Regions from separate parts of the Homo sapiens genome. Here region 1 is linked to region 2. The links come from fine-mapping of genetic effects on gene expression. A gene starts in region 2. The other region holds a variant in brackets. All regions are shown on one strand. Distances are between the middles of the regions. Region 1 overlaps ZNF106 (zinc finger protein 106). Region 2 holds the start of HAUS2 (HAUS augmin like complex subunit 2).

Region 1 (5,379 bases), 91 kb after region 2:
GCAGGGTGTGTGGGTTTACGATTATGGATGTTTATTTTTAACAGTTAAGTTCTGCCTACTTTATACGACATTCCTTAATATTTTGGAAAGTCAGTATTGCTTTCTAGTTGTGTCTTTTAAGAGCGAGGGGTTTTGATAGTTTGAGCATTAGACAGATTCTCTGCATTTTAGAAGTAAGGATAAAATCATGGATTTTATTTTAAAATACTTTTTAGGGATTATACTAAAGTCCCCAATAGAAAGATGTCTCTGGTACTGCAATATTCAGTTTAGCATTCTATGAGCTTTTAGGTAGAAAAGTAGGCTAAGATATTTTCCATAGTTTTAGAGAGTTTTAAGACAAAAATATTTTCTTTTTTTTTTTTTTTGAGGCCAAGTCTCACTCTGTCACCCAGGCTGGAGTGCAGTGGAGTGATCTTGGCTCACTGCAACCTCCACCTCCCAGGTTCAAGCGATTCTCCTGCCTCAGCCTCCTGAGTAGCTGGGATTACAGGCGTGTGCCACCATGCCTGGCTAATTTTTGTATTTTTTTTTAGTAGAGATGGGGTTTCACCGTATTGGCCAGCCTGGTCTCGAACTCCTGACCTCGTGATCCACCCACCTCGGCCTCCCAAAGTGCTGGGATTACAGGCTTGAACCACTGCGCCTGGCCAACAAAAAGATTTTCTAACTGGAAAATTGAGTTGATTGGAATGTTTATAGTGTAAATGAGATATTGTAGATTTGTTATAGTCCTCAGACTGTTCTGATGCTGCCCATTGTGATAGATTTATATAATTAACTTCTTTGTGTGTTGCTTTGAGAAACAGCTTGTTATTAACGTTCAGTTGGAATGAGCTACCATCAATTTAATTGCTTGAGAGAAAAGTATCGGTATCCCTGGTAAACTGGAGAAAGTTGAGGATTATTCTTTTTTCTTTTTTTCTTTTCTTTTTGAGACGGAGTCTCACTCTGTTGCCCAGGCTGGAGTGCAGTGGTGCGATCTCAGCTTACTACAACCTCTGCCTCCTGGGTTCAAGCGATTCTCCTGCCTCAGCCTCTTGAGTAGCTGGGATTACAGGTGCCCGCCACCATGCCCGTCTAATTTTTGTATTTTTAGTAGAGACGGGGTTTTACCAGTTTGGCCCGGGTGGTCTCAAACTCCTGACCTCAGGTGATCCATCCGCCTCGGCCTCCCAAAGTGCTGGAATTACAGGTGTGAGCCACCACGCCTGGCCGAAGATTATTCTTTAAGTGTATAAATGTAGTAAGTGCAGTTGAAAACCCTCAGTAAAAATAATGTATTTAAGTACCTGTGGAATTAGAATATTGATATTCTGGGTAATCAGGTATTGATATTTTTAGGAAACCTGGTCAGAGCACATTAAAATGAATCTTAAAAATGTCAGTATTTGAGGTTACAAAGTCAAAAAAGAGTGAAAACTTGCAAATTTTCTCAGTTTTTCTGAGCTCTTCTCCATGATCCTTACAAAATAAGGAACAGTGTTGTTTTTTTAAACTTACTGGGCATTGTTTGAGTGTTTAAACTTTGTCACCCTAAACAAGAGTGTCTATGCTAAGTATTTACTAGAAGACAGTTTCTGTTACAGGTCACCTGAATATTCATTTAAAAAAAAAAAGAAAACACCTTACCAAAAAACAGCACACCTAGAATTTAGCTGTTTTTTGGTAAGGTGTTGTTTTTTTTTTTCTTTTGTTTTTTTGAGATGGAGTCTGGCTCTATCACCCAGGCTGGAGTGCAGTGGTGTAATCTCGGCTCATTGCAACCTTTGCCTCCTGGGTTCAAGCGATTCTCCTGCCTCAGCCTCCCGAATAGCTGGGAATACAGGTGCACACCACCACACCAGGCTAATTTTTGTATTTTTAGTAGTGATAGGGTTTCACAATTTTGGTCAGGCTGGTCTCAAACTGCTGACCTCATGATCTGCCCGCCTTGGCCTCCCCAAGTGCTGGGATTACAGGCGTGAGCCCCACCAAGCCCGGCCTTTTTTTTTTTTTTTTCCTTGAATGAATATTCAGGTGATCTGTAACAGTAACTGTCCTCTAGTAAATGAAGTGCCCAGTTTTGAGGGTCTCTTCTGGTTGATGTAAATTCTGCCTATGTCTAGTTAGGTATTTGTGAGGGAAAGATGGAACAGAGGTGCACGTGTGTGTATGTGTTCTGTCTGGACAAAGACGGCATGTCCTTTTGGGTTGTTGGTTTTTTTTTTAATAGATTGGCATAGGAAGTGCAAAAATATAACTAGTCTAAATCCAGGACACATGATACAGAGTTAAGCCAATTTGGATTGTTGAATGGATACTGCTGTCTTGTAACTATGGTGTTCAGATGTTTCTCATAAATGACTGCATAGTCAGCTGACCCAGTCAAGGGATTTCCAGAAGCTAAAAAGCAGTTAAATTACTGATCTGCTACAGCTGTGGACACTGATTCAAGACTGGCTTCTGAAGACTGGCTAAGTGAGATTTGCATGAAGTATGTAAAGTAAAAAAACAAAACAAAGCAAAAAAGTCTGCCTAGTTTAACTAAAAACCTGGTTTTGCATCTCTCTCAACTGTAGCATTTTCTGAAACTTGAGAAAACACATTTGCTTGGCACAGCTGTTAACTTCCTACAACTGAAATGCTTTCCATTCCCTTTAAAATAAGCCCTTCTGAAGCAGAATGTAGATCACATGTATCATCCAGACCAAAAAAGTTTGCCTGGACTACTCCTGGGGTCCGGAATCCTCACATTCCAGGCAGAGCTCCAGCTGTTCCGATTTAGTTACCGACTTGGGATTGGCTGCGCCACCTACTCTTGTTTCCACCCCTTAACTTTCACTGGAAGAAAGCTCTAGACTAAAGATTAAATGTAAGCGCTGTCACCAGGCCTTCTGAGTGCAGCTGGCACCATGGGTGTGCTCCAGAGCAACTTCTGCTTGCTCTGAGCCCCCTGCCCTGCCTCCCCTTTCACCATGTTTCCTCTGACAAGATTTTAAGTACAGCAATTCAAGAAGATTTCTCCTCCTAAACGACATTTATCTGAAGTCTATTGCCTCTTGATTGCTGGAAAAGAATCTTAAAATCATTTCAAAAGTAACTTATAAACAAACTTATTAAAAGTGATGAAAGGAGCATTGAAATTAATTA[G/A]CACTAATTTTTCACTGTGCCAAAGTGTGCAGTGTCCTTCAGAGGAAACAATAACAGATCTGGTGAGTGTGCCATGCCAGTGGGGAGAATTGAATGTCCCTCATCTCCCTCTTTCCCTAGGGACATTAGTCATGAGTGCCGAGTGTGCGGGGTCACAGAAGTGGGTCTTTCTGCATATGCAAAGCACATTTCTGGCCAGTTGCACAAAGATAACGTTGATGCCCAGGAAAGAGAAGATGATGGAAAAGGAGAGGAAGAGGAAGAAGATTATTTTGACAAGGAACTCATTCAGTTAATAAAACAAAGGAAAGAACAAAGTCGGTAAGTAATTGATTTTTTAAAAAAAGCCTATCTATAACAGAACACAGCAGAGAATATATTTTATATCTTTGTACTGGTCAGCCCATGGCATTTAAACTTAGGTATAAAGTTTAGCTTGAGGTTGTTGTCTTACTAATCAAAGGGCAATGGAATGTTTTCTTGAACTACTGTAATATCTTCTTAAAAAAGCAAACTTAGTATTGTTCCTACATAAGCTGTAGCTACATATCTGAAATTTTTGCCATGTTGGTAACTATGTTGAGAATGGCTTTATTGGTATCCAAATCTTTTTTTTTTTTTTTAAGATGGAGTCTCACTCTGTCACCCACCCAGACTGGAGTGCAGTGGTGTGATCTTGGCTCACTGTAACCTCTGCCTTCTGGGTTCAAGCAATTCTCCTGCCTCAGCCTCCTGAGTAGCTGGGATTACAGATGCCTGCCACCATGCCTGGCTAATTTTTTTTGCATTTTTAGTAGAGACGAGGTTTAACCCCATTAGCCAGGCTGGTCTCAAACTCCTGACCTCAAGCAATCTGCCCACCTCAGCCTCCCAAAGTGCTGGAATTACAGGCGTGAGCCACCGTACCTGTCCAGTATCCAAATCTTTTGAATACCAATAAGTTTTTATTTGGCGTTTAAATTTTCCAGTGGAAAGGTGTTAGAATATAAGCTTCATTGTATAAATCGTATAGTATATAGTATAGTCGTATCGCCAAAATAACAGTGTAGTCTATAGTATATAGTATAGTCTTACTGCCAAATAACATTTCTTAGGAAAATATTTTTTGACTGGTGTGAATTAACGTGTTGCTTCTGCCAAATTTGATTTATCTTTTTGTCTTTGAATCCCCAGTGACTACCACAGTGCTTTCTTGAATAAATTTTTTTTGATAAGTGTCAAGATAATTTAAGCAATATAAATTTTCTAATTTGTACTGCATAATTTCATACCTACATTTATACATTCAGGTATTAGGCATTTATGTTTTTACCTTACTGCTTTCTGGTCTAAAGAGTTTAATTATAAAATTTGTTAAAAAGAGTTTAATTAATGAGGTAGAAATTTTCAATGTGAGGGAAAGAGAGAGAGAAGCACTTATGAGGTGGGATAATTTTTTAAGTCCCAGAACATGAAGAGAATCATTTCAGATTCTAAAATAAAAATTTAAAGATTCTTCTTTGAATACTAGTTATACCCCGTCTGTACCTCCTTTTTAGTCAGAGGCTTAACTATAAAAAGGAAGTTGTTTTTACTCTATATGTTAAAAGTTTTTTTGCCGGGAGGAACGGTGGCTCAGGCCTATTGTCCTGGTGCATGAGGAGACGAGGCCAGGGCTTTAAGACCAGCCTGGGCAACATAGGAAGCCCTTATCTATGTAATAACAACAACAAAAAATTAAAATTAAAAAAAAGTTTTTTGAACAATTCCTTGAAGGAGACTTTCTTCATCTTAAAATATCAGTAAAGGGTGAGCATCCCTAATCCAAAGTCTGAAAATGCACCAAAATCCAAAACATTTGAGTGCCAACATGAGGCCACCAGTGGAAAATTCCACACCTCATTTCATTTTACAAAATTATTCAAAATATTACCTAAAATTATCATCAGACTGTGTATAAAAGGTGTATATGAAACATAAATGAATTTTATGTTTAGACTTGGGTCCCATTCCCGTAATATCCCATTATGTATATGCAAAAATATTCCAAAATCCAAAGCAGTTTGAAATGCAAAACCTTTCTGGTCCCAAGCATTTCAGATACGGGACACTCAAACCACATGGTTCTTAAATCATTTAGTAGCTTAGTCCTTCAAATGACATTTTCATTACTTTTAATATAGTTGCAGTTTACTTTATCCTGCTTTAGGCAGTTGGAGCCTCTGGGAGACTTCTATTTTGTTCTTACATACTAGTGCCATTATTAGC
Region 2 (5,379 bases):
GTGAGCCAAGATCACACCACTGCACTCCAGCCTGGGCAACAGAGGGAGACTATGTCTCAGAAAAAAAAAAAAAAGAAAAGAAAAGAAAAAGAAAATACAGGAGAGGGCCGGGTGCAGTGGCTCACGCCTGTAATCCCAGCACTTTGGGAGGCAGAGGCAGGCAGATCACGAGGTCAGGAGATCGAGACCATCCTGGCTAACATGGTGAAACCCCATTTCTACTAAAAATACAAAAATTAGCCGGGTGAGGTGGTGAGCACCTGTAGTCCCAGCTACTCATGAGGCTGAGGCAGGAGAATGGCATGAACCCAGGAGGTGGAGCTTGCAGTGAGCCAAGACTGTGCCACTGCACTCCAGCCTGGGCAACAGAGCGAGACTCCGTCTCAAAAAAAAAAGAAAACACAGGAGAGAAGGGAGGAAGGATTACACTGTAGAGTGCTGTGGTCACTCCTGGTAAAGTTAGTCAACTAGGACCACCTGAATCTCCCCATCACCCAGACAATGGGTGTTCAACAAAAGCTTAAAATCTTTTAATACAGTATCACAGCCTCTTATAACAGTTCATCTTGAGAGGGGATACAATGTGTCAAAAGGGAGAGTACTAAGATCTAATTCTCCTTTAACAGTCTAGTGACCATGGGCAAGTTTCTTGGTCTAAGCCTTAGTTTCTTAAATTAAAAAATACTGTAAGGTATTAGAGTCTCTAATGGCTCTTCTGACTATAAAAAGTTATGTATTTTCCGTAAATCTTCCATCATGTTTGTAGTGCTTTTTTTTTTTTTTTTTTCCCTGAGACAGGGTCTCACTCTGTCGCCCAGGCTAAGTGCAGTGGCCCGATCGCATCTCACTGCAACCTCCATCTCTTAAGCTCAAGCCATCTTCCCATCTGAGCCTCCAGGACCCATGTGGTCCGCGGAGTAGTTGGGACTACAGGTGTACGCCACCATGCCGGCTAATATGTGCTGATTTTTACAGATCAGTTTAACTTTTCTGTTTTCTTTTTAGTGAAATTTCTCAACTTCCTCTATATATCAAAATTTATTTCCCCATTTTTCTCAATGCCCTTGATCCCACTTGCCCCATGCCCTCCTGTCACTGCATTCCATTATTTCCTCACATGTTCAATTTCTCCCTCTGTTGGCTCCTTCCTCCGACATGCTCCTCTTGCCCAACCTAAAACTGCCACTCCGTGACTCCTTGGGTTAATGTCTCTTTTCTCTCCTTCTCAAAATTAATCTCTTCCTCCATTCACGTTCCAAGGTCTTATCTTTTTAGCCAATACTTTTTTTTTTTTTTTTTTTTTTTTGCCTTTAAAGATGCCAAGGCCGGGCGCGGTGGCTCACGCCTGTAATCCCAGCACTTTGGGAGGCCGAGGCGGGTGGATCACGAGGTCAGGAGATCGGGACCATCCTGGCTTACAAGGTGAAACCCCGTCTCTACTAAACATACAAAAAAAAATTAGCTGGGTGTGGTGGTGGGCGCCTGTAGTCCCAGCTACTCCAGAGGCTGAGGCAGGAGAATCGCTTGAACCAGGAAGGCGGAGGTTGCAGTGAGCCGAGACCACGCCACTGCACTCCAGCCTGGGCGTTAGAGCGAGACTCTGTCTCATATAAATAAATAAATAAATAATAAAATAAAATAAAAATGTCAAAAAAGAGCTTCTGGCGCTCTTCTCTACCCAGCACCTCCCGCCCCAAATACGATTCAACACTTCCCACAAACGAGGGTTGTTGGAAATGCTTGTTCCGCAAGGGGACAGAACGACCCGTATTTCCCATCCCCGCCCTTACACTACAGTCTAGAGGCAGTATCACTGGATGAAAAAAAGGCTGGTAACAGTCTAATCTCCCACAAACTGGACTGGGACAAATTTACCCTACAGACACTCAAAACACAGTCTACCCTAAACACCATCTACTCAGATCCCCGCTTTCCAAGCATCCACGGCAGAACGTTCGCGGCTGTTGCCTGGAAGGGGCTCTTATTACTCTAGTACAGACCCCAACCAGGACCCTCACCACTCCCACAGCCAGCAGCACCAACTCACAGCCATATTGTTGCCACCTTGGGCACCCCCTTGATGACACCACCGCCACCCCCACGTACCTGATTGACCATCCCCGAAGCTATGAAGTGGCCTAGCACTAGCCCAGCGCCGTTAGGCGCGGACGCCGGGTCCCACGGGTTGGCAGCGGCCATGGCTCGGACGCACCTTCCGCGAAGGCGCCAAGAGTGAGCGGGATCGCAGGGCGAACGCACGGCGCGGCTCGATGACGTCACAGGGCGTTCCCGCCCGGGACTAAGCCGGGGAGCGCATCCCGGCTACTGCGGGTCCTGGGTCTTCACCTGCGGAGCCTTACGGCAGCTGAGCGGTGGGAGGCGAGTCCGGGGCTCCCTGATCTTCCGTAGGCTCCCAGAGGCGCCTGGCCTCCGCAGAGCTGCAAAGGCGGCAGGGCTTGGTGGTCGGGCTGTGTGTTCTTCCGTTTCTTCCTTGTCGCTCTTGGGTCGGGCCCCAGGAGCCAGGGATCGGCGGGAGTTGAGAGCTGGGGCAGGAGCCCCAGCCGGGAGGCCGACCGGGTGGACTGGGCGGTGACAGCAGCGCTTCCTTCCCGCAGGGACCTGAGCCGCGGCGCTAGGATGGGAAACAGTGCGCTCCGCGCTCATGTGGAAACGGCGCAGAAAACTGGTGTCTTTCAGCTTAAGGACCGAGGGCTGACCGAGGTGAGACTGGGAGGGACACGACCAGGGAACTTAAAGGGAGAGGGACGGCGGGGGCGGCGAACTTAGTCGGTGCGGGATTCCCCACGCTGTGAACTCCTTTCTCCAGTTCCCCGCAGACTTGCAGAAGCTGACGAGCAATCTCAGGACCATCGACTTGTCCAACAACAAGATCGAAAGCCTACCGCCTTTGCTGATAGGAAAGTTCACTCTGCTGAAGAGCCTCTCCCTGAACAACAACAAACTGAGTATGGCTCTCGCCAGGGAGGCTTTTGCTAGTGATCAGCTGTTACCAGGGGTGGTTTTCTCTTACAAGCTGATTTTTGTTTTTGTTATGAAACCGTGCAGGAGGGCTCAAGTTGCGAATGCCGGAATCCTTGAAGCCTTCTTTCTACTTCTTGTAATTACATCTAAAATAAGCCTTATAATGATTGGGTGTTATAATGATTGTTACTGGGTTAATTTGGACTTGAAAGAGAAGAACATTTTGGGGATGTAATGTAAACAAAGCTACCTAACTTGGAATGGGGGATGGATGAGAAGGGGAGGATCTTCCAAATATCACAAAATTGCTGTCGGATTGTGCCTTGGGCCCCTTTACAAAAGGAGCCCATTATACACACAAATGCTCTCCGGCATTTTGATGGCACCCTCACCTTCTAAAGACTATGTTGGTAAAATGCAATATCTAAAAATGGCACATGTGGGAGTTTTACATATATTAACAAGAGGCGAAGCAGGCTGCCATATAGTCTTTATAAACTTCATCAAAGTTGTTTTCAGCTCTATCACATTCAGGTTTTAAAAAAATTTTTCTTTGCCAGCTGTTCTGCCTGATGAGATATGCAATCTGAAAAAACTAGAGACGCTAAGCCTAAACAACAATCACCTTAGAGAGCTGCCGTCTACCTTTGGGCAACTCTCTGCCCTCAAGACCCTGAGCCTCTCTGGGAACCAACTGGGAGCATTACCTCCCCAACTTTGTAGCCTACGGCACCTGGATGTGATGGATCTCTCTAAGAACCAGATTCGAAGTATACCTGACTCAGTGGGAGAGCTGCAAGTCATCGAACTCAACCTCAACCAGAATCAGGTCTAGAGCTTTAAGGTTTTTTTTCCTACAGCATATGTGTGGCTTTAAGGTCTCCTGATACCTGTTAACCTCTTGTTTCCTAAACTGCCATCATAGAGCTAAGTATCAGAGGCTAAATGAGAGGTTTCTTCTATAGGCTGAACTAATTTCAAGGCCCAAAGTGCCATGGAATTAGTTGAGACACTGGATGTGTTAGTTGTGTAGGTGTTTTGGGGAGGGTGGGGTAGGTAACAGGGAGAGATCATTTCAAAAGTTAAACTACTGTCTCACAAATCTTGAAGACTTCTTCAGATCCTCCTCAAATATATGCCCCTAACCAGCTAGCCAGGAGCTATGTCAGGGATATAATGTGGAAATGAGGCCTAAACTGAGGTTCTCAGAGTCGGGAGTCAGAGGTAATTCAGTTTTGTTTTTCGTTTTGTGTGGGGTTTTGACATCTTTGTTACAAAGTGTGTCTCCTTTTGCTGAAGAATATTAAGTGATAGGCTTTCTGGAGATAGCCCATTTCACTGTTGTACAGCTTTAATTATAATATTTGAAATTTGTTTCCATTACTTTGGAAGCTTTCAATTAATATTTGTCTGGAAAACCAATCCAAAGATTCTTGTCTAGGCATGAAGGCACAAGTGATGAAATATTAAACACTGTGAGACTGGATGGCCTTTAGTTTTCTAGTGTCTGTATTTCTAGATCTGCATGGTCCATTAAAGTGGCCAGAAGCTGCATGTGGTTATTACTTTTCTAGATTGTAGTGATTTTACATCATGATGAAATTCAGTCTGTCTTTGAGGAATTGGCCTCATGTTTTTTTACCTTAAGTGGATATTCTTGTATGTTATAGAGCTTCTTGGGGGAAAAAAAAAACTGAATCAATTAAGCAGCAAGTATTAGTTGAGGATTTGCTCCACATTCACCTCTGCCAGTACCTTTATTCAGTGGTTCTCTAAGTTTAGTATGCATCAGAATTAACCAGAAAAGCTTGTTTAAAGAGATCACTAGCCCCCTACCCTCAGTGTTTCTGATCCAGTAGGGCTGGGATGAGGTCTGAGAACTTGCATTGCTAGTTATTGAACTTATTAAAGTTCCCATGATTTCTAATAAGTGATGGTCTGAGATGATACTGGGCAGAATCAAATAATTTGGTGACTTTTAGTATTTAAATGGCAAAAGGGGTGAGTCAAAGACAATTGCTTGGTATTGAGCTTGAGGGCCTAAAGGAACAGTAGTGCTATTGAGAATGGACATGCTGAGTTGTCTGTGGTGAATCTTGTAAATGGAAATATCTTACTGAAAGTTGGAAACGTGGGAGCAGAATAGAGGTAAGAGTATAGATACAGATCTTGAGGTCATAACAAAAGTGATGGACTTTAATGAATGAGCTTTCTAGAAGAAGTTTAGAGAGAAGATGACATATGAAGTATTACAGACAGCTACTTGAAAAATGCCCATAAAAACAAGAGAAGTAAGGAAGAATCCAAAAGATAGGAAGAAAAACCAAAAAAGGACAAAAATAAGGGGTTTTAAGGAAGGGATAGATAGTACAGTTAAATGCAGTAGGGACTGAGGAC

The links. PIP is the estimated chance that this variant, and not a neighbour inherited with it, causes the effect.
Region 1: its variant is the best candidate, but not a certain one, in a credible set for the expression of HAUS2 in whole blood (INTERVAL, PIP 0.57).

The regions. Positions count from the first base shown.
Region 1 is chr15:42,455,032-42,460,410 of GRCh38, reverse strand. ZNF106 (zinc finger protein 106) reads left to right here. Exons shown (of 22, transcript NM_001366845.3): 4 at 3,253-3,453. Among named protein-coding and RNA genes, the nearest start is that of ZNF106, 33 kb to the left of the region's middle. RefSeq lists enhancers at 1,416-2,247, 2,248-3,080. The variant G/A (reference allele first, on the strand shown) is at 3,133.
Region 2 is chr15:42,545,693-42,551,071 of GRCh38, reverse strand. HAUS2 (HAUS augmin like complex subunit 2) reads right to left here and starts at 2,234. Exons shown (of 6, transcript NM_018097.3): 1 at 2,107-2,234. The coding sequence starts at 2,199. LRRC57 (leucine rich repeat containing 57) reads left to right here and starts at 2,279. Exons shown (of 6, transcript NM_153260.3): 1 at 2,279-2,379; 2 at 2,616-2,721; 3 at 2,828-2,966; 4 at 3,543-3,811. The coding sequence starts at 2,638. RefSeq lists an enhancer at 1,974-2,443.